Linked DNA regions of Homo sapiens: regions 1 and 2 are each linked to region 3. The links come from fine-mapping of genetic effects on gene expression. A gene starts in region 3. Each other region holds a variant in brackets. All regions are shown on one strand. Distances are from middle to middle.

Region 1 (9,773 bases), 25 kb before region 3:
AGGACAAGGTGCTCCTTCCTGCCTCCTTTTCACAGTTCCAACAAACCCCTCCCCTGAAGCAGAATCCTGCTGTGACCTGAGGGGAGTGGGGGACAGTGGGCTGAATTGGGGGTGCAGGAGAGCATTAGCAGCCTCTCTTCCAAGAGACACAGCCCCCGGCACCTCCACCCGGCCCAGCACCCACCGTCTCCGCTGGACTCAGGCTCACACCCGCCAAGGCTTTTGGCGCTGGCCGGCGTCTCCCCACCGGCACCTGGAGGAGTGACAGGGGCTACTGTCTTACAGCAGTGGGAATGCCCAAACATGGAGAGGGGCAGACGGAGAGATGGGCAGCTTCGAGGGAGTCGAGAGCCTGAGACAGAGGGCAGGGGGCAGGCTTGGCAGCACATTCCTGCCAACAGGCCTTTAAGGTTATTCATTTCTACCTCCCCCGGCTTCCCAGAGGGGGAAACAAGCCAGGGAGGGAAAGCCACCCGCCAGGAGCTGCAGAAGGGCTGCTCTAGGGAAGGCTGTGGGTGTGAACTGCCATGGAGGGAGGCTGAGCCAGAGGCGCCCTCGGGGATCCCTTCCCACAGGGGTCTCCACGCCCAGGGATGGAAAGTGATCCTCCTGTCACACCTGAGGGCTGGAGCTAAAAGCATGGGACACAGAGACACCCTGGCCAGTCCCTGATGAGTGCAGAACTTCGGTTTAACCATCTGTAAAGAAAGGCTTAGAGGGAAAGTCTCTCAGGCCCCAACAGCCAAGACATGCTGGTCTGAGGAGTGGGTGGGTGTCCTCGTCCCCCTCCCCTGCCCATCTTTGGAAGGCAGGTCCCTGAAGGCTGGCAGGGCTGGGGGAGGGGGAGCCTCAGAGCACCAGTTGCTGCTGGAAGATTAGGAGGGGATCAGGCCCTGCTTACCTCGGGGCACCACAGCCTTCACTGGCCATCTCACTAAGAACCCAGCACCCGGCTCTCCAAAGCTTCCCCCACTTTCAAGGCCGGTCCTATCCCCAGTCTCCTGAGGCCAAGGTTTGGGGAGCCCCAGAAATTAGAGCAAGCAGGAGAGCCAGCAGGCTTCCCTCGGCTAGCCCCCCGCCTGGGTGGCCTGGAAGCCCAGCTGTCTCCTGTCCATCTCCCTACAGGACACAAGGCCCAGAATAGCAAGGTCATGAGCGTGGGTAGGGCCTCCTGGAGGTGGGGGCTGAAGCTGAGGGGCATGAGGGTGTGGGCTCCTTGCTGCCTGGGCGGGGAGTGAGGCAGGATGCTGAAAGGCGGAGCTGGACAGTGGGGAAGGGAGAAGGCCGAGCTCAGCGGGTGGGATTCTTCAGCCCCAGGCCCCTCCTTGTTGGCACCCACTACCCCCAGAGCTGGGAAGCCCAGGGGTGCCCTCTGTTGGAGGGCACAGCCACAGATCAGGAAGACTGATTCCAAGAGCAGAGCCTGTGTTTTACGGGGTGGAGGGGTGTGCCACAATGGGGGTGGTGTTATAAACTCAAATGCCCACAGGGCCAGGCCCTCCCAGGGAGCAAAGTGAGCTGGTGGGGATGGGGCAGATGTGGAAGTGGACCCACATCACTGGATCTTCTGATTTTTAAGAGAAGCCAGTGATTTTTTTTTTTTTTTTTTTTTTTTTAGACAGAGTCTCGCTCTGTTGCCCAGGTTGGAGTGCAATGGTGCGATCTTGGCTCACAGCAACCTCCACCTCCTGGGCTCAAGCAATTCTCCTACCTTAGCCTCCTGAGTAGCTGGTATTACAGGCGCGCACCACCACACCCGGCTAATTTTTTGTATTTTTAGTAGAGACGGGGTTTCTCCACATTGGTCAGCCTGGTCTCAAACTCCTGACCTCAGGTGATCCACCCACGTCGGCCTCCCAAAGTGCTGGGATTACAGGCGTGAGCCACCACACCTGGCCTGTGATCTGAATTTTTAATGTGAAACTCAAATGGACACCATGTCCAGGCCAAGCAAACCATGTCAGCAGCTCTGACTCAAGATGAAACTTCACATGTCACAGATGAGGATGCTCAGGCCCGGCGTGGCTACACCTTGCCCAGGCCAGTGAGTGGCAAGGCCAGGACAGAAGCTAGTGCCCTCTGCCATCCCTCCAGCCTGGCTTTGAGAAGGGGGCCATTGGGCCCCTCTGCGGCTACCCTGTGACTGCCACGTTCAATCTCTTCCAGCACAGCCACCGTGCCTCCCATCTCTCACTGCCAGCTCTCTCTAGGGTACAAAGCCATAACTCAGGAAGGGCCGCTGGAGATCACCATGCCTGCCATTCACAGCACTGTCCCATGACAAAAACTCGCAGGAGACCCCAAGAGCATCATTTAGTGCTCCACGAACAAGGCTGTCAGACACAGGGATGGCTCCGAAAGCACAGCACTGCAGAATGATGGGGACTGGCCTGGGCCAGCCCTCTGGCCTGTGGGCACTGAGTGGGCTGCCTTCCCAACCCAACTGTCCCCAGTCCCCACAGCAAACAATGGCCATAGCCATCACGATAGAACCGAGATAAACCTTTTTATTTATTTATGCTTCTCCATTTTGTTTAAAACAACAACAACAACCACCTTAATGTAACTGACAGCCCTTCCCCCTCACCCTGCCTCGGGCTGGGGGTAGTTAATGGGGAAATGGCCCCCAGGGTGGGGCTGACCAGAAGAGCCCCTCAAGGAGCTCATGGAGCCCAAATCCCCTGCCCTGGGGAGGGGACCTGTAGTGTGTGACGGGAGCCTCTCCCGAGCCTCTGCTTGTACCATCAAAGATGCCCTTGGCCAACAAGGGTCAGGAAGCATGGGGGAGGGATTTCGGCCTCCTCTGTCCCTACCCAGCCCAATCTCACGAGCAGGGCTGGGGGGTTTAAAAAGGGTGGAGCGGGTGGGGTTGGCTCACACGAAGGAGTACTGGTTGTTAATGGCCCTGGGGTGGCCCCCTTCCTCTCCATCACCCCCTAGTGGTGACTGCTGCAGCTGCACCATTGGGGGCACCCCCGCGTCCCCACCAGACCCAGCGCCCTGGGCCTCTGAGCCTGGGGCTATGGCCTCTTCCAATTCAACCACGGGGACCAGCTCAACCACGGGGACCAGCTCTTCCGGGACCCCTCCACCGCCCGCTTTCTCTTTCTCTTGCCTCTCTTTGGCTGCTGCGGCTGCTGCTGCCGCCACTTCTGGCGCCCTCGACGCCTCTTCTGCCCCAGGCTGTGGGGGATCTGTCCATGAAGGGGGTTCAGGGGGCTGGGGTGGGTCATGGGAGGTGGTCGGTTCTGGATAGGAATGGTAAGAAAACAGACTGATTGTGGAGGCAGGTGAGCTCCTGCCGTGGCCTCCCCTTCACTCAGCCCCCCAGGAGCGTGGCTGTCTCCCCACATCCCATCTCCTGAGCAACCCCCCATCCATGGAAGATGGATCATGGGCGGTGGTGAGAGGAGGACCACACTTACACACAGTCACTCGCTCCGAAGGGCATGAGGGTGCAGGAGGCATCGGGGTGGCATCCATCTCCCTCGCACACCCCCGCATGGCTCCCAGCCTGCTCCCGGCCTGGGGGGAGGGGCAACGTGGGGACAGATGGGACGGTGGGGCAGGGGAAAGGGAGAGATCAGACAGGGACATGAGACATTGAGGGAGGAGGGAAGGGGATCAGACCGAGTGTCCCCGGGAAGGGCAGGCCCAAGGCCAGGCTGCGACGGAGGGCAAAGACGAGGCCAGGATGGGTCCAGGAGACAGACAGACAATGGAACAGAGGATCCGATGGAATGGGGATGCGCCCGCCCACCTCTCAGCTGCCGCCCCGGCTCCGGCCAGGAGCCTTCTGCCTTCCTGTGTCCTATCAGCGCATTTCTTTCCCTTCCAAACCCCGAGGCACAACAGCCTCCTCTACCCTGCTCTCCCAAGCAAAGCTTCTCCTTGTGATAGTCCCCCCTCCCCGCCCCATCTTTCTGGCACACACACCTCACTTCTTGGGTGCACGGGCACCTCCTCCCCTGCAGACCTGCTCTGCTCACCCTGCTGTCGCTGGGAGGATGGGACATAGCTGACAAGGACAACATCACTGGAGCCTCCCGACTCCAAAGGGATGGGGTGCACCCGGAAGTGCTCGAGCATATCGAAAATGGACTGGAACCACAGGTGCTGGACCCGGCACTGACCCTCCTCGTTCAGCGACAAACGCAGGTGCTGAGGGCGGGATGGGGGAGGTGAGGTAGGAGGCAAAGGCCCTGCCAGGTACAAACCCCCTCCCCCGGCAGTGCTCCCCCACCCCACTGCCAACTATGCACAGAACAGAGCCTTTCCCACAGGGTGGCTCACCTTGGCCTTGCCCTGGAAGTTGAAGGTGAGGACGTATTCACCCCGCCTTGTCTCACTCTGGCGCACCAGGAAGACACCGTGGGAGCCAGTGCCGCCAGTCAGCACCAACTGTGCAGCCTTGAGCCGAGAGAGCATCCCGTGGAACCAAGGATACCCTGAGAGGGGCTGGTCCCCCTCACCGCCCTCTGGCTCCCCCTGGAACAGGAAGGACCCTTCAGGAAGGAGAGAGGGAGGGAAACCGGGGTGTCAGGGCAGCCTCCCCCATCCTGGGAGAAAAAAGCCTTGCCTTCCCCTCAAGGCGCCTGCTCCCCACATGCGTCCCCAACTCCCCTGGGCCAGCTCCCTCGGGATCCCAGGAGAGGTGGTCAGGAAGGTAGGCACCCAGGCCTGGAGACATGCACACTCACACCTCCGGTACCTGTGGCTGTTTCCGGAGTGTCCAAGGGAGGGTAGGGGGCTGAGAGGGGATGAACTGTCCCTGTTGGGGGTCCCTCTTCAATGGGGATGCGGGGGGGCAACTCTGGGGGAAGCAGTTCCATCGAGTCAAAATGGGAGGCGGCAATGGAGGCAGAGCTGGGGGAGATGGATGCCGAGGGGCGGTCTGAGAGGCCCCCATATGCCCCTGGAAAAAAAAAGGGCAAAGCTGAGAACCCAAGAAATTCCTCTTCTAAAGGACTGTCCTGGGCCCATCTCCTCACCAGCAGTCTACCCTGTGTGCAGTCGCTGGCCAAGATGCCAAACAGCTCTGTGGGTAGTGACCCCTGATGCTTTTACCAATGGCTCCTAACTGATGCTTCCTGCGCTGCTGAGGGACTGCAGAGTTATTGCAAGGAGGTTCTAAAGTCCCAATGTGTCTCCATCTTTTTCTGAATCAACAGCTGAAAGACTGTTGCAGAAACGGAGAGCAGAATGCCTTAAATATATATATACATGTTTTTGTAGAGAAGGGGTCTCGCTATATAATAGCCCAGGTTGGCCCTGAGTTCCTGGACTCAAGTGATCTGCCCACCTCAGCTCTGGGATTACAGGCGTGAGCCACCGTGCCCAGCTGCCTCAAATATTTTGACATTCAAAAGGAGTCCTGGGCCAGGCGCAGTGGCTCACACCTGTAATACCCGCACTTTGGGAGGTTGAGGCAGGAGGATCACTTGAGCTTAGGAGTTCGAGAGCAGCCTGGGCAACATGGTGAAACACCATCTCTACTAAAAATACAAAAATTAGCTGGACGTAGTGGTGCACACCTGTAATCCTAGCTACCTGGGAGGCTGAGGCAGAAGAATTGCTTGAACCCGGGAGGCAGAGGTTGCAGTGAGCCGAGATTGTTTCACTGCACTGCAGCCTGGGCGACAGAGCAAGCCTCTGTCTCAAAACACACACACACACACACACACACACACACACAC[ACACG/G]GAATTCTGGCTGCACACAGTGGCTCACGCCTGTAATCCCAGCCTTTTGGGAGGCTGAGGTGTGAGAATGACTTGAGCCCAGGAGTTCAAGACCAACTTGGGCAACATGGTGAGACCCCATCTCTTACAAAAAATAAAAAATTAGCTAGGTGTGGTGGTGGCACACGCCTGTGGTCCCAGCACCTTAAGCCGCTGACGCAGGAAGATGGCTTGAGCCAGGGAGGTCAAGGCTGCAGGAAGCTGTGACTGCACCACTGCACTCCAGCCTGGGAGACATAACAAGACCCTATCTCAAAAACAAAAACACAAACAATAATTTTTTAAAAATAAAAAAATTAAACACACAAACAAAAAAAAAAAGGTGTCCTTTGTTGAACTATAGGACAAAGCCCCTAACTCTTAAGAGGCATCAAAGATGCTCCTTCTATTACTCCCCCAACCCACACCAACTTGAGCTTTACCTTACCTTGTATTCATGTCTCTTCCACTTTAACCCAATTTCCCATCCAATTTGTCCCCATATCCTGGGCCCTCCCCGCAGGTCTCTGCTCTTGCCCTTCACGTCCCCAGGCATGTCCTCTCCTCTCCTCGGCGTCGCAGTCCCTGTCTCTCCCACCTTCCCCTGCTCTCTTCCTCCTGAGCTCCCAACGTGATTCCTGCTTGTGCTGCTCAGGGGACACTAAGCTTTCTATAGGGAGTGATGTCAACCCAGCTGAAAGCCTCTAGAGAACAAGGAGCTCATCTCAGGCATCCTAGCTACCCCATCCTGGCCCGGGACACAGAGCAGGGCCAGGTATGCACTAGGGCCATCCTCCAAGTCTGTCCAACAGCAGGCCACTGCCTACACAAATGTCATAGGCAGGCAGTGCTCAGAAGACAGGCGTGTGGTGCACAGACAGCATGGCTTGGGAAACAGGGTGGCGCAGCCCCTGTCTTCCTCAGTGACCCTCAGGTGTCCTCTCCCTGGTCTTAGCTACTAAGATCTGATGAGATGCAAGGTCCACTCTAGATCTAAGATTCCATGATTCATGTGTTCATTCACTGAATACAGCCTGTGTGCTAGGCACTGTGCAGCTGGAACTCAGAACAGAGGGTCAGGAGAAAAGGCTATAGTGGAGGCCGAATCTAGAAATATGAGTTGGGACTGGGTGACACATCTTTGTGTGTTTGTGTGTGTGGGTCGGGTATGTGTGTTTGGTCAGACCAAAAAGTACAGAGTCAAGAGAAAACGTGATTGCCCCTGACAGACACAGAGATGCAGAGTAAGAACAAAACAAAGATTTCTACAAAGTGTTCCAGAAGCTTGGAGAAAACCACCATTATTTCCAGCCAGAGCGGTGGCTGGCAGGACGCTGACTGAAAAAGTGGCGAGGCTGGGTGCAGAAGCCTGGCTAAGGTTTGCTTGGGGCCTGCGTGGGGTCATGATTATTCTAAACAGCAAACTGTGGCTGTGTTCAGGGATCAAAGACCAACATTTGGTGGGGTTGGGGTAGGGCATCTGGAAAACAGGGATGGGGGCACAGTGGCGTCTGGAGAGGGCATGGCGCCTGACAGCAGGGGCCCCGCATGGCAGGTTCCGAGGCTCCGAGCTCTCTAAGGCTCCACCCTTACCCTGCGACAGGCGGTCATTGCTCTCGCTGGGTCCAAGCAGCAGGTCCTGGCTGGGTAGACTCTCCGAGTGATTCAGGCAGGACAGCTCCAGGCTGTCTGTGTTCTCCCTTGTAAGGAATGAGGTCCCAGGGGCCAGAGGGAGGGTCATGGGGCGGGGACTGGTAGCAGGGCAGGGTCTGCAGAGACAGGGAAGATGGTGCTGGGAGGAAAGTCACCAGGTGAGAGGCGCAAGGCTGCTCCCCAACCCCACTCTATGTCCCTTAGCGACAGAAGTCAGGCTTCTCACCCTGGGCTCAGGCATTCTTGGATGTCAGACACCCAGGCCTTCACATGCTGGGCATCCACTGTCTCCATGATATACTCGGATGGACCTTCCACCTACAGAGATGAGACGACGCCTCAGCTGGGGCAGGGGCAGGGAGGAGGCTTAATCCATGCCTAATGAGAACAATGTATGCAGGCTGTCTACAAACAAGATGCATTCGAATTCTCTCTGGAGGCCGGGTACAGAGGCTCACACCTGTAATCCCAGCACCTCTGGAGGATCACTTGAGCCCAGGAGTTGGACCAGTCTGGGCAACATAGTGAGAACCTGTCTCTAAAAAAATTGAAAAATAAAATAAGGCGAGGCCGGGTACGATGGCTCACACCTGTAATCCCAGCACTTTGAGAGGCCAAGGAGGGTGGATCACAAGGTCAAGAGTTCGAGACCAACATGACCAATGTGGTGAAACCCTGTCTCTACTAAAAACAAAAATTAGCCAGGCGTGGTGGCAGGCGCCTGTAGTCCCAGCTACTCGAGAGGCTGAGACAGGAGAATCGCTTGAACCCGGGAGGCGGAGGTTGCAGTGAGCCAAGATCATGCCACTTCAACTCCAGCCTGGGAGACAGAGTAAAATGCCGTCTCAAAAATATAAAAAATAAAAATAAAATAAAATAAAATAGGCCAGGCGCAGTGGCTCACGCCTATAATCCCAGCACTTTGGGAGGCTGAGGCGGGCAAATCACGAGGTCAGGAGATCGAGACCATCCTAGCTAACTTGGTGAAACCCCGTCTCTACTAAAAATACAAAAAAATTATCCGGGCGTGGTGGCGGACGCCAGTAGTCCCAGCTACTCGGGAGGCTGAGGCAGGAAAATGGCATGAACCCGGGAGGTGGAGCTTGCAGTGAGTCGAGATCGCGCCACTGCACTCCAGCCTGGGCGACAGAGCGAGACTCTGTCTCAAAAAAAATAAATAAATAATAAAATAAAATAAGGCCAGGCACAGTGGCTCACGCCTGTGATCCCAACACTTTGGGAGGCCAAGTGGGGTGGATCACTTGAGGCCAGTTTGAGACCAGCCTGCCGAACATGGCAAAACCCATTTCTGCTAAACATACAAAAAATTAGCTGGGCATAGTGGTGCATGCCTGTAATCCCAACTACTCAGGAGGCTGAGGCACAAGAATCGCTTGAACCTGGGAGGCAGAGGTTGCAGTGAGCCAAGATCGCGCCGCTGCACTCCAGCCTGTGCGGCAGAGCAAGGCTCTATCTCAAATGTAAGTAAGTAACAAAATTAGCCAGGCATGGTGTCACATGCCTGTAGTCCCAGCTCCTTAGAGGGCTGAGGCAGGACGATCACTTGAGCCCAGGAGTTCGAGGCTACACGAGGCTACAGTGAGCTATGATCAGGTTGCTGCACTCCTGACTTAGAGGGAGACCCTGTCTCTCTAAAACAACCACAACAACAAAAACTCCACAGTTCTCTTTCAAGTGGAGGCATTGTTTTTGAGAGTAAGAACATTTCCCTGTCTTCCGCTATCCCAGAAAAGCTGCAGCCCCAGGGACACACTCTCAAGGCACTGGACACATATATATACCTCCTTTCGGCGACGCCACTTGCTTAAATGCGCTGAGGGCTTTCTCCTTAACACAAGCACTGCCGGCGGCTGGGAAGTTGAATTCCTACCTTAACCACAAACGTGTTCTCCCGGTCAGGCATCTCCAGGGCTGTGGTTGTCCGGACGTCTGTGATAGAAGAGCAGGGGATGCTGAGTCGGGGCCGAGAGGCCTAAGTCAGGAGAAAGAAACAGATCTGGGTGTTTGGTTTCCAAAGACCACTCTTCCCCTCCCTCCAGACATTCATCTTTCCTTCTACATCCTCGGGAAGTTAGACAAAAGGCAGTCACACTGCTTTCTCAGTCCTGCCCGCAGCTGCTAACACAGAGCCAAGAGCCAGCTTTACCAACAAAAAGTGAGCGACACCAGGGCCATGGGCTGGTAAACCCCAGAGCTTATCTGCAGGGCTGTGACCACTCTGAGCACTCTCTCACTTGCTCTCAGTCACCCACCCTCCAAGGGGCCTCACCTTGGGTGGTACAAAGAACTCCAGGCGACTTCCTCCTCCTCCTTCTCCTTCACTTCGAAGCAGCAGGCGACACTTCTGCCACTGAGGCTGCCCTCCTCCCCCTGAAGGAGGC
Region 2 (9,773 bases), 35 kb after region 3:
AGCAGAAATCACGCCACTGCACTCCAGCCTGAGTAACACAGAGAGACCCTGTCAAAAAAAAAAAGAAAAGGATTAAAAAAATTACTTGATAGCACAACAGGGTGACTACAGTCAACAATAATTTATTGTACATTTAAAAATAACTAAAAGAGGGCCAGGCGTGGTGGCTCACGCCTGTCATCCCAGCACTTTGGGAGGCCAAGGCAGGTGGATCACTTGAGGTCAGGAGTTCGAGACCAGCCTGGCCCACATGGTGAAACCCCGTCTCTACTAAAAATACAAAACTCAGCCAGGTGTGGTGGTGGGTGCCTGTAATCCCAGCTACTCGGGAGGCTGAGACAGGAGAATTGCTTAAACCTGGAAGGCAGAGGCTGGGTGTGGTGGCTCACGCCTGTAATCCCAGCACTTTGGGAGGCCAAGGCAGGTGGATCATGAGGTCAGGAGTTCGAGACCAGCCTGACCAACATGGTGAAACCCCCGTCTCTACTTAAAATACAAAAATTAGCCAGGCATGGTGGTGCACGACTGTAATCCCATCTACTCAGGAGGCTGAGGCAGGAGAATCGCTTGAACACGCAAGGTGGAGGTTGCAGTGAGCCGAGATTGCACCATTGCCCTCCAGCCCGGGCAACAGAGAAAGACTGTCTCAAAACAAACAAACAAACAAACAAACAAAAAAACCTGGAAGGCAGAGGTTGCCGTGAGCCAGGATCTCACCACTGCACTCCAGCCTGGGCGACAGAGTGAGACTCCATCTCAAAAAAAAAAAAAAAAGGCTGATCATGGTGGCTCACGCCTGTAACCCCAGCACTTTGGGAGGCTGAGGTGGGCACATCACCTGAGGTTGGGAGTTTGAGACCAGCCTAACCAACATGGAGAAATCTCTACTAAAAATACAAAATTAGTTGGGTGTGGTGGTGCATGCCTTTAATCCCAGCTACTTGGGAGCCTGACGCAGGAGAATCGCTTGAACCCAGAGGCAGAAATTGCAGTGAACCGAGATCGCGCCATTGCACCCCAGACTGGGTGACAAAAGTGAAACTCTGTCTCAAAAAACAAACAAACAAACAAACAAAAAACCCTAAACTAAAATAGTTTAATTTGATTCTTTGTAACACAAAGGATAAACGTAGGAGGTGCTGGATACCACATTTACCCTGATGTGATTATTATGCATTGTGTGCCTGTATCAAAATATCTCATGTACCTTGTAAATATATACACTTACTACGTTCCCACAAAAAATAAAAATAAAAAACTAAAAAAAGAGATAGTTATCTTTCATACAAGGAAAGTTCTCACTGTTTCTCCAAAATGAGACTCACTGTCATAATGATCATTGCACCAGTTGCTGGCTATTTTAATTACTCCTCAAATTAAGTCATAGTCTTGAATGTTCTGCTACCTAAAGGCCGAATTGTAGAGCTAACCTCCAATAACTTGTATAAAAAATAAGAACGAGGAGAGAAAAAAAAGAAAGCTCTTTCCTCCATCTTCCCCTGCCACCAAAATGGCGCATATGACTGTCCCGGCTGATGCTCTCAAGAACATTGACAGGCTGGGTGCTATGGCTCATGCTTGTAATCCCAGCACTTTGGGAGGCTGAGGCAGGCAGATCATGAGGTCAAGAGATCAAGAACATCCTGGCCAACATGGTGAAATCCTGTCTCTACTAAAAATACAAAACTTAGCTGGGCGTGGTGGCGCACGCCTGTAATCCTAGCTACGCGGGAGGCAGGGGCAGGAGAATCGCTTGAACCCGGGAGGCAAAGGTTGCAGTGAGCCGAGATCGCACCATTGCGCTCCAGCCTGGTGAAAGAGGGAGACTCCGTCTCAAAAAGAAAAAAAAAAAAAATAGAACATCAACAATGCCAAAAAGAGAGGCAAAATGCCAGGTACCTATTAGGCCATTCTCCAAAGTCATCGTCCAGTTTCTAACTGTGATGATGAAGCATGGTTACATTGGCGAATTTGAAATCACTGATGATCACACAGCTGGGAAAATTACTGTAAACCTCACAGGCAGGCTAAACGTGGGATCAGCCCCAGATTTGATGTGCAAAGATCTAGAAAAATAGCAGAATGATCTGCTTCCATCCCGCCAGTTTGGTTTCATTGTACTGACCACCTCAGCTGGCATCATGGACCATGAAGAAGCAAGACGAAAACACACAGGAAGGAAAATCCTGGGACTCTTTTTCTAGAGATGTAACACATATTTACAAATAAAATGCCTATGGACCAAATAAAAAAAAAAAGATGGCTAGCATGTACAAATAAAGACATGAATATATTATGCAAAAAGGGGCCAGGTGCGGTGGCTCACGCCTGTAATCTCAGGACTTTGGGAGGCCAAGACGGGCGGATCACTTGAGGTCAGGAGTTTGAGACCAGCCTGGCCAACATGGTGAAACTCCATCTCTACTAAAAAATACAGAAATTAGCCAAGCATGGTGGCACATGCCTGTAATCCCAGCTACTCGGGAGGCTGAGGCAGGAGAATTGCTTGAACCCGGGAGGCAGAGGTTGTAGTGAGCTGAGATTGAGCCACTGAACTCCAGCCTGGGCGACAGAGTGAGAGTCCATCTCAAAAAAAAAAAAAAAAAAAAGCAAAAAGGAAATATGACAAGCTTCCAAGATCCTCAGTTCTGTAATTGGTCATGAGCCCATAATTGGTAACTATGTTCCCTTCTGTAAGTATCCAAAAATCCTTGGGCTCCGATAATTGGGCTTTTTACCTGGTAGGATGAGGCAAAGCTTCATTCCTAAAGGGTCCGCATTGTCCTGCCTTCTTTTAGTTACCACAGTTTTTCAGTAACATGTATTATTGGGCATAGAAATAGTAAGAGGCACTCCAGAGAAACCCGGGATTCAGACACACCATCCTTACCCCCATGGTGTGGCAGCAACCCAGTTTCCTCCTGGTCATAAGGATCAATAACTCCAGCCAGTAGAGTAACCCCATTTTCTGCGGTTGGTTCAGTGGCCTAAAAAGTCCAACATGACCAGGTGGCAGTCTCATTTTCCAATTCAATGGTATCATTGTTGTGTCCCTGATGGAAGAATTCCTCCCTTGAGGACTAAGTCTTCCAAGTCAGCAGAGCTCAAACTTACCAAGACAGGAAACAAAAAATCTGCAAGTGGGTTATTTGGTAGAATAGTGAGACTGGGCGAGGTGGGAGGATGGTTTGAGGGCAGGAGTTTGACAACAGCCTGGGCAACATGGCCAGAACCTGTCCACGCCCCCACCAAACAAAAAGAAATACAAAAATTAGCCAGGTGTGGTGGCACGCACCTGTAGTCCTAGCTACTTGGGAGGCTGAGGCAGGAGGATTGCTCAAGCCCAGAAGTTCAAGGCTGCAGTGAGCCATAATTGCACCACTGTACTCCAGGCTGGGTGACAGAATAAGACTTTGTCTTTAACAAACAATTTTTTGATCAGGTGTGGTGGCTCACACCTGTAATCCCAGCACTATGGGAGGCTGAGACAGTCAGATTACTAGAGGCCAGGAGTTTGAGACCAGCCTGACCAACATGGCGAAACCCCATCTCTACTAAAAATGCAAAAATTAGCTTGGTGGCCAGACGCGGTGGCTCATGCCTGTAATCCCAACACTTTGGGAGGCCAAGGAGGTTGGATCACGAGGTCAGGGGTTCAAGACCAGCCTAACCAACATGGTGAAATCCTCTCTGTACTAAAAATACAAAAATTAGCCTGGCGTGGTGGCGCATGCCTGTAATCCCAGCTA[C/T]TCAGGAGGCTGAGGCAGGAGAATCACTTGAACCCGGGAGGCAGAGGTTGCAGTGAGCCAAGATAGCGCCATTGCACTCCAGCCCCGGGGACAAGAGTGAAACTCCATCTCAAAAAAAAAAAAAATTAGCCAGGCGTCAGCTGGGCACAGTGGCTCACGCCTGTAATCCCAGCACTTTGGGAGGCCGAGATGGGTGGATCACGAGGTCAGGAGATCAAGACCATCCTGGCCAACCTGGTGAAACCCCATAAAAGTACAAAAAAAAAAATTAGCTGGGTGTGGTGGTACGTGCCTGTAAACCCAGCTACTCGGGAGGCTGAGGCACGAGAATCGCTTGAACCCGGGAGGCAGACTGCAGTGAGCCAAGATGGCGCCACTGCATTCCATCCTGGCGACAGAGCGAGACAACATCAAAAAAAAAAAAAAAAAAAAAAATTAGCTAGGCGTGGCGGTCAGCTACTTGGGAGGCTGAGGCACAAGAATCGCTTGAATCCGGAAGGCGGAGATTGCAGTGAGCTATGACACTCCAGCCTGGGCGACAGAGTGAGAGTTTGTCTCAAAAAAAAAAAAAAAAAAACAAACGGCCAGGCACAGTGGCTCACGCCTATAATCCCAGCACTTTGGGAGGCCAAGGCGGGCGGATCATGAGGTCAGGAGATGGACACCATCCTGCTAACACGGTGAAACCCCGTCTCTACTAAAAACACAAAAAAAATTAGCCGGGCGTGGTGGCGGGCGCCTGTAGTCCCAGCTACTCTGGAGGCTGAGGCAGGAGAATGGCGTGAACCTGGGAGGCGGAGCTTGCAGCGAGCCGAGATCGCGCCACTGCACTCCAGCCTGGGCGACAGAGCAAGACTTTGTCTCAAAAAAGAAAAGAAAAGAAAAAAAAACAGCGAGAAGAACGAGATCTAATATCTCTCCTTGATTCTGACTTGTATTCTGGCTATGAGAGAAAAAGCACTACATAATGGTCTCTCATTAAGACAGCAGTGTTGGCCGGGCGAGGTGGCTCACGCCTGCAATCCCAGCACTTTGGGAGGCCAAGGCAGGCGCATCACCCGCGATCAGGAGTTCGAGACCAGCCTGACCAACATGGAGAAATCCTGTCTCTATTAAAATACAAAATTAGCCAGGCGTGGTGGCGCATGCCTGTAATCCTAGCTACTCAGGAGGCTGAGGCAGCAGTATCTCTTGAACCAAGGAGGTGGAGGTTGCAGTGGGCTGAGATCACCCCATTGCGCTCTAGACTGGGCAACAGGAGTGAGACTCTGTCTCAAAAAAAAAAAAAAAAGATAGTAGTGTGCATGCTATAAAAAAGAATCCCAGCCTCTGTGCGGGGTAAAAAACCCAAACCATTCTTTCTGGGGTGTGGTCTCTCAAGTGGTGCCTTAACTGAGTCTTTATTTTTTTGAGATAGAGTCTTGCTCTGTTGCCCAGGCTGGAGGGCAGTGGCATGATCTCGGCTCACTGCAACCTTCACCTCCCAGATTCAAGTGATTCTCCTGCCTCAGCCTCCAGAGTAGCTGGTATTACAGGCATGCGCCACCACGCCTGGCTAATTTTCGTATTTTTAGTGGAGATGGGGTTTTACATGTTGGCCAGGCTGGTCTCAAACTCCTGACCTCAAGTGATTTGGCCTCCCAAAGTGCTGGGATTACAGGTGTAAGCCACCACATCTTGCCTTAACTGAGTCTTTAATACATCATTGCACCACACTAGGGGTCATGTTGATTTCTTCTGCTGTCTAAAGATACCACATGTGAGGCAGCAGCTGCAATTGGAGTCACCATCTAAATGAGTTTCCCATAGTCCACAGTCATTCTCTAAGATCCATCCAACCAGCATATGCCAAACGCCTGCCCATTCAAGTCTTTTTTTTTTGACACAGTTTCGCTCTTTTGCCTAGGCTGGAGTACAGTGGTATGATCTCAGCTCAGAAGCCTCTGCCTCCCAGGTTCAAGCGATTCTTCTGCCTCAGCATCCTGAGTAGCCAGGATTACAGGCACCTGCCACCACACTCGGCTAATTTTTGTACTTTTAGTAGAGATAGGGTTTCACCATGTTGCCCAGGTTGGTCTCGAACTCCTGACGTCAGGTGATCCACCCGCCTCGGCCTCCCAAAATGCTAGGATTACAGGCCTGAGCCACCCCACCTGGCCCCTTGCAAGTCTTTGAGGGTGGCACTAGTCTCTGCGACTCTCCAGGGATGTGATAATGCTTCTGGTTAACTGTCTTTTTAAAATTTTTTTTCTTTGAGACAGAGTCTCCCTCTGTTGCCCAGGCTGGAGTGCAGTAGGATGATCTTGGCTCACTGCAACCTCTGCCTCCTGGGTTCACGCCATTCTCCTGCCTCAGCCTCTTGAGTAGCTAGGACTACAGGTGCCCGCCATCACACCTGGCTAATTTTTTGTATTTGTAGTAGAGATGGGGTTTCACCGTGTTAGCCAGGATGGTCTCAATCTCCTGACCTCGTGATCCGCCTGCCTTGGCCTCCCAAAGTGCTGGGATTACAGGTGTAAGCCACTGCGCCCAGCCCTCTGGTTAACTGTCTTGACAGGAAGTGGAAGTTACAGGGACTTTCCCTTAGCCCTTTCCACCATGATTCTCTCACTCCATGGGTGGGAGAGCCAGTGTGGAGATTTGTCAGTTGCCATAGATGGCTATTCCTATTATACTCTCAGGAATTTGGAAATAACCACAGGGTGGGACCATAGATCAACGGAGCCCTCTGTGAGCTGGGGCTGAGCTAAGACTCCATCTAGCACCTGACCATCTATCTTTAAGCCCCTACTTTTAGTGATGAGCCACAGTGGCATTTTGGATCCTCAGGACTTGGCGTTAATTCAGAGCCAATGTCTAGGAATCCTCAAAAGGTTGGGTATTTTCTTCTCCCTGATGCACACTCTAGTAAACAGGGCATGTTCCTCTCTCAGGGAGAACCAAACTTCTCTCCAATTAAGTGACTCTGGATCTATGCTGACTTAGGTCTAAAATTCAGGCGAGAGACTACAACTCTTCACTATGGCAACTCAACTTAGGTTTTTGGCTACTAGAGCAAGTTTTTTGTTTATTTTTTTGAGATGGAGTCTTGCTCTGTCAACCAGGCAGAAGTACAGTGGTGTGATCTTGGCTCACTGCAACCTCTGCCTCCCGGGCTCAAGCAATTCTCCTCCCTCAGCCTCCCGAGTAGCTGGGATTACAGATGCACGCCACCACACCTGGCTAATTTTTGTATTTTTAGTAGAGATGGGGTTTCACCATGTTGGCCGGGCTGGTCTCGAACTCCTGACCTCAGGTGATCTACCTGCCTCAGCCTCCCAAAGTGCTGGGATTACAGGTGTGAGCCACTGCGCGCAGCTTATTTATTTATTTATTTTTAACAAGGTCTTGCTCTGTTGCTCAGGCTGGAGTGCGCTGGTGCAATTATAGCTCACTGCAGCCTCGGACTCCTGGGCTCAAACCATCCTCCCACCTCAGCCTTCAGAGTAGCTGGGACTACAAGTGTGCACAACCATGCCCAGCTAATTAAAAAAAAAAAACCAAAAAAACCTTTTTTTGGTGGAGACATGGTCTCACAATATTGCCCAAGCTAGTCTCAAACACCTGGCCTCAAGCAAATCTTCCTGCCACAGCCTCCCAAAGTGCTGGGATTACAGGCATAAGCCACTGTGTCCAGCCAGAATTTGATGTTTTGACATATATTTTATATCTATAGCCGTGAAGTCATTACCACAATCATGATAGCGAAGGTATGCATCACGCAGAAGTCTCCTTGTGACTGTAATCTCTCCCACCTGCCTCTCTCTGACCCCTCATACCCAAGAAACCACTGATCTGCTTTCTGTCACGATAGGTTGATTTGCATTTTCTTTTTTTCTTTTTGAGATGGAGTTTTGCTCTTGTCACCCAGGCTGGAGTGCAATGGTGCAGTCTCAGCTCACTGCAACCTCCGCCTCCCAGGTTCAAGCAATTCTCCTGCCTCAGCCTCCCAAGTGGCTGGGATTACAGGCACCCACTACCACACCCAGGTAATTTTTGTATTTTTAGTAGAAACGGGGTTTCACCACATTGGCCAGGCTGGTCTCGAACTCCTGAGCTCAGGTGATCTGCCTACCTCAGACTCCCAAAGTGCTGGGATTATAGGTGTGAGCCACCATGCCTGACCTGATTTGCATTTTCTAGAGCAGGGGTTGGCAAATGTTTTTTGTAAAGGGCCAAATAGTAAATATTTTAGGTGTTGTAGGACAACAGATAAAAAGTAGTATATTATGGCAGGGCACAGTGGCTCACGCCTGTAATTCCAGCACTTTGGGAGGCCGAGGCGGGCAGATCACTTGAGGCCAGGAGTTTGAGACCAGACTGACCAACATGGCAAAACCCAGACTCTACTAAAAATACAAAAATTACCCAGACATGGTGGCGCATGCCTGTAATCCCAGCTACTGGAGAGGCTCAGGCATGTGAATTGCCTGAACTCAGGAGGCAGAGGTGGCAGTGAGCCGAGATCACACCACTGCACTCCACCCTGGGTGACAGAGCGAGACTCTATCTCAGAAAAAAAAAAAAAAAAAAAGAACAAAGTTAGTGTTCCCTATCATCAAAGTCTATGACAAATGTTTATCTGTTAATTCTAATCTGTAATGAGATTTGGCAAAAATAGTTTTTCCTGAAGATAGGTATTGCCAAATACAGATAGCAATCCACAAGCATATGATGTCACGAGCACATTCATCATTTGAAAGGCATTTATAGAATTCTATTTGGACTCTGGCCAGGTGCGGTGGCTCACTTAATCCCAGCACTTTGGGAGGCCGAGGTAGGTGGATCACTCGAGGCCAGGAGTCCCAGACCAGCCTAGGCAACACGGCAAAACCCCCCTCTCTACTGAAAATACAAAAAAATCAGCCAGGCCTGGTGGCGTGTGCCTGTAATTCCAGCTACTTGATGCTCAGTATCATTTGAACCTGGGAGGTAGAAGTTGCAGTGAGCTGAGATGGTGCCACTGCACTCTGGCCTGGGCACCAGAGCAAGACCGTGTCTCAAAAAAAAAAAAAAAAAAAATCTATTTGGATTGGATTTTTCTCTTGCTATCTGCCTTTTAGCATGTCACTACATTATGGTTTAATCACTTGAGATGTGTCTCAATTTCACTGAAGTCCTAAAAATGCTACTGGAACTGCAGTTTGAGATTGGAAATGTAGCTCCTAAAAATCTATATGGGAATGGACATCTTGCTCCTTGTTTTAACTTTGATATTATGGGCTGTGTATAAGGCAGCTTGACATCGCTTGTGATTCAAACAATATACCATCAATGAAGTTACTTTACAGCAGCATACGTTAAACATATACGTGCTGTTTTGCCTTATAATTTTAGGTTGAATTATTAAGAGATATTATCAAAACTGCTTCAAAAGCTAGCTAACAAAGCCTCTCAGTGTTTGATAGCAGTGGTTATGTGTGGTTCTTCTTTGTTGTTGTTGTTGTTGAGACGGAGTCTCGCTCTGTCGCCCAGACTAGAGTGCAGTGGCATGATCTAGGCTCACTGCAACCTCCACCTCCCCAGGTTCAAGCGATTCTCCTGCCTCAGCCTCCGGAGTAGCTGGGACTACAGGTGCCCGCCACCAAGCCTGGCTAATTTTTTGTATTTTTAGTAGAGACGGGGTTTCACCATGTTAGTGAGGATGGTCCTCAAGTGATCTGCCCACCTCGGCCTCCTGAAGTGCTGGTAACACAGGTGTGAGCCACTGCACCTGGCCCGGTTCTTATTTAGAAAAATTTCAGGCCGGGTGCAGTGGCTCACACCTGTAATACCCGCAATCTGGGAGGCCGAAGCAGGTGGATTACCTGAGGTCAGGAGTTCGAGACCAGCCTGGCCAACACAGTGAAACCCCGTCTTTACTAAAAATACAAAAAAAAATTAGCCAGGTGTGGTGGCGGGCACCTGTAATCCCAGCTACTTGGGAGGCTGAAGCAGGAAAATCCCTTGAACTCGGGAGGCAGAGATTGCAGTGAGCTGAGATAG
Region 3 (9,773 bases):
TTTTGGATAGGTTGGTTTTTTTTTTTTTCTTTTTGAGACAGAGTCTTGCTCTGTCGGCAGGCTGGAGTGCAGTGGCGCAATCTCGGCACACTGCAACCTCCACCTCCCAGGTTCGAGCGAGTCTCCCACCTCAGCCTCCCGAGTAGCTGGGACTACAGGCAAGCGCCACCATGCCCAGCTAATTTTTGTATTTTTTTAGTAGAGACGGGTTTCACCATATTGGCCAGGATGGTCTCAATCTCTTGACCTCGTGACCCACCTGCCTTGGCCTCCCAAAGTGCTGGGATTACAGGCATGAGCCACCACGTCCGGCCCTTTTTAATTTCCTTTTTTTTTTTTTTTTTCAGATGGAGTCTCGCTCACTCTGTCGCCCAGGCTGGAGTGCAGTGGCGCACTCTCGGCTCACTGCAACCTCTGCCTCCTGGGTTCAAGCGATTCTCCTGTTTCAGCCTCCCAAGTAGCTGGGACTACAGGCACGTGCCACCACTCCTGGCTAATTTTTTGTATTTTTAGTAGAGGTGGGGTTTCACCATATTAGCCATGATGGTCTTGATCTCCTGACCTCATGATCCGCCCACCTTAGCGTCCCAAAGTTCTGGGATTACAGGCGTGAGCCACCACACCTGGCCCTTTTTGTTTTAGAGACGTGGTCTGGCACTGTCACACAGGCTGGAGTGCAGTGGTGCTATCATTGCTCACTGCAGCCTCAAACTCCTGGGTTCAAGTGATCTTCCTGTCTCAGCCTCCCCAGTAACTGGGATTATACAAGCATGTGCTGCCATATCTGGCAAATTTTTTTATTTTTATGTTTGTAGAGACAAGGTCTCACTATTTTGCCCAGGCTGGTCTCGAACTCCTGGTCTCAAGCAATAGCAGAAGTGGTTTCAGTGCCCCCGGCAGTAGCTATAACAGACGAGTTGATATCCTGGCATGTAGCATTTGATGGTAGTGACAGTAACAGCAGTTTTCTTATCAGGTCAAATCAGTTCTATGGCTTGGAATTAGTTCTCCAGTTTGCCCCACAATTCTGTAAGCTGCCTAATACCCTTAACAAATCCCTCCTCTGCTTAAGCCAGCCAATGTAAAATCTGTTATCTGTAAGTCAAGACTTCTGACTGAGCCATTCACTAATACAGAGGATGCTACGGTCAACAGCTCTAGAAAAAATTTTCTCTGGGCTCTTTTCCGAACACCGTGTTTCTCAAACTCTAGCCATTCATTCACTACCTTCCAAAAAATTTGCCATATATTCATACCACACATAATAGTTTTTATTTTATTTTTGAGACAGAGTCTCGCTCTGTCACCCAGGCTGGAGTACAATGGCGTGATATCGGCTCACTGCAACCTCCGCCTCCTGGGTTCAAGCGATTCTCCTGCTTCAGCCTCCTGAGTAGCTGAGACTACAGGCGTGCACCATGCCCAGGTAATTTTGTATTTTTAGTAAAGACGGGATTTCACCATGTTGGCCAGGCTGGTCTCGAACTCCTGGCCTCAAGTGATCCGCCTGCCTCGACCTCCCAAAGTGCTGGGATTATAGGTGTGAGCCATTGTGCCCAGTGCATCCATAATATTATCTACCAAACAATATTCTTTTAAGTTGATCTGTTTTTTTAAAAACTTGATTATTATGCCAGTTTTTTTTCAAGCTAATACACATTAAAATAAATATAGCACCACAAAAATATAAACCATTAATTCAAATACCACCCCCAAAAACTCATAACTTGCTAGTGGCCAATAGTGTCTTAGGATAAATTCCTAGGAGTACAGTGACTTAGGTACAGAGTAGAAACAGAAAACCCTTTTAGGCTGGGCACAGTGGCTCATGCCTGTAATCCCAGCATTTTGAGAGGCCAAGGTGGGCAGACGGCTTGGGCCCCGGTATTGGGAGACCAGCCTGGCCAACATGGCGAAACCCCATCTCTACAAAAAATACAAAAATTAGCCAGGTGTGGTGGTGTATGCTTGTAATCCCAGCTATTTGGGAGGCTGAGGTAGATTGAGCTTGGGAGGCTGAAGCTGCAGTGAGCTGTGACTGCCCTACTATGCTCCAGCCTAGGAGACCCAGCAAGGCTCTGTCAAAAAAACAAAAACAAAATCTGTTTATACTACACATGATACCAGCCTTTCCTAAGCAGAACTGATTAACTGGAGGGCCAGGAAGAGAGAAGTCTTAGCAAGTTCCTCACTTTATCTGAGCAGTAAAATGAGAGTTAAATTATAGTACAGTCTGGCTGGGCATGGTGGCTCACACCTATAATCCCAGCATTTTGGGAGGCCAAGGTGGGTGGATCACTTGAGGTCAGGAGTTCAAGACCAGCCTGGCCAATATGGTGAAACCCCGTCTCTATTAAAAATACAAAAATTAGCTGGGCGTGGTGGCAGGCGCCTGTAATCCCAGCTACTCGGGAGGCTGAGGCAGGAGAATCGCTTGAACCTGGGAGATGGAGGTTGCAGTGAGCCGAGATCGTGTCACTGCACTCCAGCTGGGCAACAGAGTGTGACTCTGTCTCAAAAAAAAAAAAAAAAAAAAAAGGACAGTGCGGTGTGCACACTTTTTGGGGTTTAGTGGTGGTGGATTCCTTAATCACCCTGACCGTCAGTTTTCACACCTGCAAAATGGAGGAAATAATAGTTCCTACTACCCAGGGTAGCACTGGGAGCGCTGATTGTGAAACAATAGGAATGCCTGAACATCATAAAGCTCTAGTTCAGAGTTTCCTAAACTCCTCTGAGTTTTCATTTGAAAAAAAATTTTTTTTTTTGGAGACGGAGTCTCGCTGTGTCGCCCAGGGTGGAGTGCAGTGGCACCATCTCAGCTCACTGCAAGCTCCGCCTCCCGGGTGCAAACAATTATCCTGCCTCAGCCTCCTGAGTAGCTGGTACTACAGGTGCACACTGCCACGCCCAGCTAATTTTTTGTATTTTAGTAGAGACAGAGTTTCACCGTGTTGCCCAGGCTGTTCTCGAACTCCTGAACTCAAGCAATCCACCCGCCCGGCCTCCCAAAGTGCTAGGATTACAGGTGTGAGCCACCACGCCTGGCCAAAATATTTTTATAGAGATGGGGTCTTTCTTGGCTGAGCGTGGTAGCTCACGCCTGTAGTCCCAGCACTTTGGGAGGCCACAATGGGCGGATCACTTGAGGTCTGGAGTTCGAGAGCCGTCTGGCCAACGAGGTGAAACCCCATCTGTACTAAAAATACTAAAATTAGCCAGGCGTGGTGGCACATGCCTGTAGTCCCAGCTACTCAGGAGGCTGAGGTGGGAGAATTGCTTCAACCCAGGAGGTGGAGGTTGCAGTGAGCCGAGATCGCCCCATTGCACTCCAGCCTGGGCGACAGAGTGAGACTCTGTCTCCAAAAAAAAAAAAAAAAAAAAAAAAAAGATGGGGTCTTTCTCTGTCACTCACGGTGGGGTGCAGTGTCATGATCATACCTCACCACAGCCTTGAACTCCTGAGCTCAGGCGATCCTCCTGCCTCGGCCTCCTGAGTAGGAGGGGCTATAGCTGCATGCTACTGTGCCTGGCTAATTTTAAATTTTTTTTTGTAGAGATAGGGTCTCCTAATCTGCCCAGGCTGGTCTTGAACTCCTGGCTTCAAACCGTCCTCCCACCTCAGCCTCCCAAACTGCTGGGACTATAGGCTGGCACTATAGCCACCGTGCCCAGCCTCTTCTCAGTTTTAGAAGAGTGTTTGTTATATAGCTTCCCAGTCTGTGCATAGACCCCACGGAATCATAACCTCCAGGGGAGGAATTAGGGAATCTATTTGAAACAAACACTGTCCACTGAGTCTCAGGATCTGATGAGTTCCGAAACATTAGCCAGGGTTAAGCAGCCATAATTAACACTTTGGAGTGCCCTGTGGAAGCTGCCATGAGATGATGGATGTGAAAGTTAAGGGACATTGACTACCCTTGCACCCATTCATTCAACATTCACTGCATGCTCCACCCTGTTAGGTGCTGGGGACACCGACAGATTAAAGGAGACTCAGGCTCCCCTTAAAGGCTCCCCTAGCTGGCTCCTCATCCTTGGCTCCTCATCTGCAAAATTAGATGGGTGGGGCGATGCCCAACGGAACTGCTCCTTAGGCTGCTGAGGGACTACAGGGGTGGGCAGCGAAGCTGTCTGTCTTGTGGGCTCTGGCCCTGTGAGGTCTAGCAGTACAGGGTCCCCGCAAGCTGCCTGACCTCACAGGGCCCAACACTGACTCCTACCCAGTTCATCTCCTCTCAGGGCTAGATGTCAGGCTCTCCCTATGAAGTGGATACTACTATTCCCATTTTACAGATTAGAAAACAAAGTCTCAGCGAAGAGGGAGGTCACACTTCACCCCATCCCCGAAAGGCGTCCAGGACCTGGTCCCCTACCTCCAGCTGCGGCAGAGGCGGCCAGATATCTCGCAAGACCCGCGTAGCGAGTCGGACTCCGGGGGACTCGGGGTCTCTCTCTGCCGGGCCCAGGAGGAGGTTCCTGAGCAGTCGGAGCCGCAGCTGCCTCCCGGAGCCCGAGCCCCTCCCTCCGGGTCCGGCCTAGCCCGCCTGACTCCCACTCTGATCACCTCCACAGCCCGCCGACCTGAGAACTACTACGCCCATGAGCCTTCGCGGCGCCGGTGATTTAGGGGACGCTCCTCAGTGCCCCCTGCGACCGCCAGAGAGAACTACGTTGCCCCTCAGCCCGAGAGGCGCGAGTGGTGGAAAACCTCTCCATCATACTCCGCCCTCGAGACACCAGCCCCCTCCATGACGTCTTCAGCCGCGCGCCCGACGTCGGCTGAGACGGCCATAGACACTGGCGGCTAGAGGGGCCCGGACTTGCCCTCCCAGCTCTAACTTCCGCCGGAAGTGCCTTCCAGCCGCAGGCGCCCTTCTTCTTCTGTGCGCTCGGGCTCCTGGTCCCGGCTCCCCGGTTACCGGGGCGCGAGTATGACCACAATGGCGGCCGCCACCCTGCTGCGCGCGACGCCCCACTTCAGCGGTGAGTGGTCAGGGAGGGCGATGGCGGCCCAGGAACACTTTGGGGGAGTGGTAGGTGGCTGGGTTCGGTCTGACCCCTTCCCTGCCTGACTCCAAGCTTCGGTCCCGGCAGGTCTCGCCGCCGGCCGGACCTTCCTGCTGCAGGGTCTGTTGCGGCTGCTGAAAGCCCCGGCATTGCCTCTCTTGTGCCGCGGCCTGGCCGTGGAGGCCAAGAAGACTTACGTGCGCGACAAGCCACATGTGAATGTGGGTACCATCGGCCATGTGGACCACGGGAAGACCACGCTGACTGCAGCCATCACGAAGAGTGAGTGGGGTTGGGGCGTCCAGCAGCGCCCTATCTACTGATGGGACCTGGAGCCAGGGAGGCAAGGCCAGCAGAGTGTCTGCTGGAGGAGTTTACTGTGGCCCCAAGAGCCCGAATTTGTGCGACAGGTGGATTGGGAGATGCAAGAGACAAATTTCTCCTGAACAGGAAGAACTTTGTGATCCACCAATGGCTTGGGGATCACAAAGTCGTGGGGAATGCTCTGCAAGCAGAGGCTGTACCCTAAAGAAGTCACAGGGCAGACCCTTAAGGCCCTCTAACATTTCTTTCTGACCCACAGTTCTCTCTGCTGGAAGAGTTAGAGATTGGAGGAGGTTATGTATTTAGGTGGGAGGGTTCAGGGGCGTGGTCTAAGCTCTGCCTCTAGCACTGGAACTTTAGCTGAGAGGTGTGTTCTTTTCCTCCTTTAGTTCTAGCTGAGGGAGGTGGGGCTAAGTTCAAGAAGTACGAGGAGATTGACAATGCCCCGGAGGAGCGAGCTCGGGGTATCACCATCAATGCGGCTCATGTGGAGTATAGCACTGCCGCCCGCCACTACGCCCACACAGACTGCCCGGGTCATGCAGATTATGTTAAGGTGAGGGTTGCTGGGACACTGGAGACAGGGCCAGAAGCTGCCTCTTGTCAGGATAAATGTTAGGCTTGTGGGGAGGAGATTAAGATATTCAGTGTTTGGGTATGAGATGGCAGGTTTGTGGTCTTGGCCACGCAGAATGGGTGGTGAGGAGATGGTAGAGAAAGGTGGGCCTGAGTTTCTAACTGCTACACTTGGCTATATGGATGTGAACTGAAGAGCTCGTTGAACTTGGCTGTTTCCTTTCCTTCTCCTCTCCAGAATATGATCACAGGCACTGCACCCCTCGACGGCTGCATCCTGGTGGTAGCAGCCAATGACGGCCCCATGCCCCAGACCCGAGAGCACTTATTACTGGCCAGACAGGTACTCAGAGCCTGGGTAAGGATGCAAAAGGGAAGAGTGGGGAGTTGGGCCCCTCTGTATATTGTCCCTGTCTCTCTGGCATCTACAGATTGGGGTGGAGCATGTGGTGGTGTATGTGAACAAGGCTGACGCTGTCCAGGACTCTGAGATGGTGGAACTGGTGGAACTGGAGATCCGGGAGCTGCTCACCGAGTTTGGCTATAAAGGGGAGGAGACCCCAGTCATCGTAGGCTCTGCTCTCTGTGCCCTTGAGGTGAACGCGGGGTCAGGCAGGGCAGCTGCTGCAGAGGGTGGGGCTGGATGGGCACCCAGAGCTCTGCTTTGTGTCTGGGAAGTGGCTCTTGATAATCGAGGGAAGTAGAATGGGGATTTCAGAGTCCTGGCACTTCCCCTCAACAGGGTCGGGACCCTGAGTTAGGCCTGAAGTCTGTGCAGAAGCTACTGGATGCTGTGGACACTTACATCCCAGTGCCCGCCCGGGACCTGGAGAAGCCTTTCCTGCTGCCTGTGGAGGCGGTGTACTCCGTCCCTGGTGAGGACTCTGTCTGTTCCCACGCACTCTCTCTAGCAGAAGCCTAGCTCGGGGTCCCTGATATCCTGTCTTATTCCCTCCCAGGCCGTGGCACCGTGGTGACAGGTACACTAGAGCGTGGCATTTTAAAGAAGGGAGACGAGTGTGAGCTCCTAGGACATAGCAAGAACATCCGCACTGTGGTGACAGGTTTGGGAAGCCAGTCTGGAGAGCAGGGCCTGGCTGAAGGGTGGCCTTACCCCGGCAGATCCCTTGTGCCTTCCCTCTGTCTCACATTCGCCTTCCTTCTCCCTGCTCCTTTTCCCTTTCCGTCCTAGGCATTGAGATGTTCCACAAGAGCCTGGAGAGGGCCGAGGCCGGAGATAACCTCGGGGCCCTGGTCCGAGGCTTGAAGCGGGAGGACTTGCGGCGGGGCCTGGTCATGGTCAAGCCAGGTTCCATCAAGCCCCACCAGAAGGTGGAGGCCCAGGTGAGGGCTCCAGGTGACGGTGGGCAGGGTTGAGCCAAGCTCTCCCCAGCCTCCAGCCAAGCCCAGCTCACCGTCATTGCTTGCTCTCCTCCAGGTTTACATCCTCAGCAAGGAGGAAGGTGGCCGCCACAAGCCCTTTGTGTCCCACTTCATGCCTGTCATGTTCTCCCTGACTTGGGACATGGCCTGTCGGATTATCCTGCCCCCAGAGAAGGTACGGTGGGTGGGAGGAATGTAGGGTGGAGGGGGGACTTTTTATATTACCTTTGCTTCACTCATAGTTCCAAAGATACACTGTGACAACCCGAGTGGCTTTATTTCCTTAGGTGGAAAGGGGCTGCTTGCCGCTGCTAGCCAACAGAAGGGGCATGGCCCATGGACTTAGGGGCGGGAGTCCTCATCCAGTGTGCCCTAAGCTGAAGCAGGTTAAAAGTTTAGCTCTGCCAGCATGTACCCACAGAAAGATTTCCTAGAAAAGGTCTCTTCTTTTTGAGCGTTTCATTATATATGAAGGCTTAAGAAGTTCTGTGACCAAGAAACCTGCATAACCCACAACTTCCTAGACATTTTTTTCTCAAGAACATACCTTAGGAACACTCATCACTGGTCTCTTTTATGTTTTCCTGTCTCAATATGCTGTTTGCATCTGCCTGACAGCCTGGGATGGATGAAGCTGTCCCCAGGCAGAACCATTCCCCTGCTGCATTCTCCCATGACTCTTAACCTCCGAGGTAGCCAAAAAAGACTTAAGGAATGAAGGCACCCTGGAGGCCACGCATGATCCTTCTCTTCCTACTCTAGGAGCTTGCCATGCCCGGGGAGGACCTGAAGTTCAACCTAATCTTGCGGCAGCCAATGATCTTAGAGAAAGGCCAGCGTTTCACCCTGCGAGATGGCAACCGGACTATTGGCACCGGTCTAGTCACCAACACGCTGGCCATGACTGAGGAGGAGAAGAATATCAAATGGGGTTGAGTGTGCAGATCTCTGCTCAGCTTCCCTTGCGTTTAAGGCCTGCCCTAGCCAGGGCTCCCTCCTGCTTCCAGTACCCTCTCATGGCATAGGCTGCAACCCAGCAGAGGGCAGCTAGATGGACATTTCCCCTGCTCGGAAGGGTTGGCCTGCCTGGCTGGGGAGGTCAGTAAACTTTGAATAGTAAGCCAGCCTGTGTCCTGTGTCCTTTGTGCAAATTGGAGAGGATAGGGGAGGACAAAAAGGGTGTTGAACCCCAGACAGATGGGGAGCTTGTGAGATCCCAGAGCAGTTTTAACGGATAAATCAAGTCCAGTGAGCTTAGTGATTGCCTAGACACAGTAGGATGCCGTTATTCAGCCTCCTGGGAGATAGTGGGAAAGAATGTTCTATCGCTCTGGAGCCAGCATGGCTTCAGCTCAGGTGCCAAACCCATCTTGTTTCCTCGGAATACTAAGTGAATGTCTAGCATCCATTCACATTCTGTGGGAACAGGGACTGGACAGGCATACCTCAGATGCTGTAGGTTTGCTTCCAGACTACCACAATAAAGCAGGTCACAAATTTTTTGATTTCTCAGTGAAGTTATGTTTATATTATAGTTGACCCTTGAACAATGCAGGGGTTAGGGGTGTCAGCCCTCCTCCATGCAGCCACAAATCCACATATAACTTGTTTTTGAGATGGGGCCAGCTTTGTGCAGTGGCAGTATCATAGCCAATGACTCCATGATGACTTGAAATATAATCAGCATTGGCAATTTTCGACGGTCTCTATGGGGAGGCTGAACAAAGGGAAAAAAAGAGATATAGGGTCTCACTGTCACCCAGGCTGGGTGCGGTGGCACCATCCTAGCTCACTGCAGCCTTGGACTCCTGGGCTCAACCTTGGTCTCCCCAACTGCTGGGATTAGAGGTGTAAGCTACCGTGTCTGGCTCCTCACATATAACTTGACTCCCCCAAAATGTAACTAGTAACCTGCTGCTGGCCAGAAGCCTCGCTGATAGCATACAAACACATACTTTGTGTGTTATATGTATTATATACTGTATTCTTAAAACTAGAGAGTGGCCGGGCGCGGTGGCTCACGCCTGTAATCCCAGCACTTTGGGAGATTGAGGTGGGTGGATCACAAGGTCAGGAGTTCGAGACCAGCCTGGCCAACATGGTGAAACCCTGTCTCTACTAAAAATACAAAAAAATTAGCCGGGTGTGGTGGCACATGCCTGTAATTCCAGCTACTCAGGAGGCTGAGGCAGGAGAATTGCTTGAATCCAGGAGGCGGAGGTTGCGGTGAGCTGAGATCGCGCCACTGCACTCCAGCCTGGGTGACAGAGCGAGACTCTATCTCAAAAAAAAACAAAAAAACAATAAAACTAGAGAAGGTGTTAAGAAAATCATAAGGAAAATATATTCACTATCAAGTGGAAGTGGATCATCATAAAGGCCCTCATTGTCTTCACGTTTCTTAGGAGGAGGCCAAAGGGGAGACAGGCAGACTCGGTGTAACTTGTATTTGAAAAAATTCACATGTAAGTGGATCT

The links. PIP is the estimated chance that this variant, and not a neighbour inherited with it, causes the effect.
Region 1: its variant is the best candidate, but not a certain one, in a credible set for the expression of TUFM in fetal neocortex (Walker 2019, PIP 0.87).
Region 2: its variant is the best candidate, but not a certain one, in a credible set for the expression of TUFM in lung (TOPMed, PIP 0.70).

Annotation. Positions count from the first base shown.
Region 1 is chr16:28,866,922-28,876,694 of GRCh38, reverse strand. SH2B1 (SH2B adaptor protein 1) reads right to left here. Exons shown (of 8, transcript NM_001387430.1): 1 at 9,662-9,773; 2 at 9,263-9,364; 3 at 7,598-7,689; 4 at 7,312-7,487; 5 at 4,712-4,915; 6 at 4,294-4,505; 7 at 3,990-4,161; 8 at 2,490-3,248. The coding sequence ends at 2,875. Among named protein-coding and RNA genes, the nearest start is that of ATP2A1, 6.7 kb to the left of the region's middle. RefSeq lists enhancers at 1,741-2,241, 2,242-2,742. The variant ACACG/G (reference allele first, on the strand shown) is at 5,697.
Region 2 is chr16:28,806,411-28,816,183 of GRCh38, reverse strand. It overlaps the pseudogene RPS15AP33. Among named protein-coding and RNA genes, the nearest start is that of ATXN2L, 12 kb to the left of the region's middle. The variant C/T (reference allele first, on the strand shown) is at 3,750.
Region 3 is chr16:28,841,434-28,851,206 of GRCh38, reverse strand. It overlaps TUFM (Tu translation elongation factor, mitochondrial), which reads left to right and starts at 4,859. Exons shown (of 10, transcript NM_003321.5): 1 at 4,859-4,989; 2 at 5,101-5,295; 3 at 5,727-5,893; 4 at 6,152-6,256; 5 at 6,345-6,509; 6 at 6,656-6,788; 7 at 6,873-6,977; 8 at 7,106-7,257; 9 at 7,352-7,471; 10 at 8,059-8,796. The coding sequence starts at 4,938. The coding sequence ends at 8,232. It overlaps MIR4721 (microRNA 4721), which reads left to right and starts at 7,200; the gene lies at 7,200-7,288. It also overlaps a transcript of SH2B1 not described here. RefSeq lists silencers at 912-1,112, 9,207-9,364 and an enhancer at 4,508-4,997.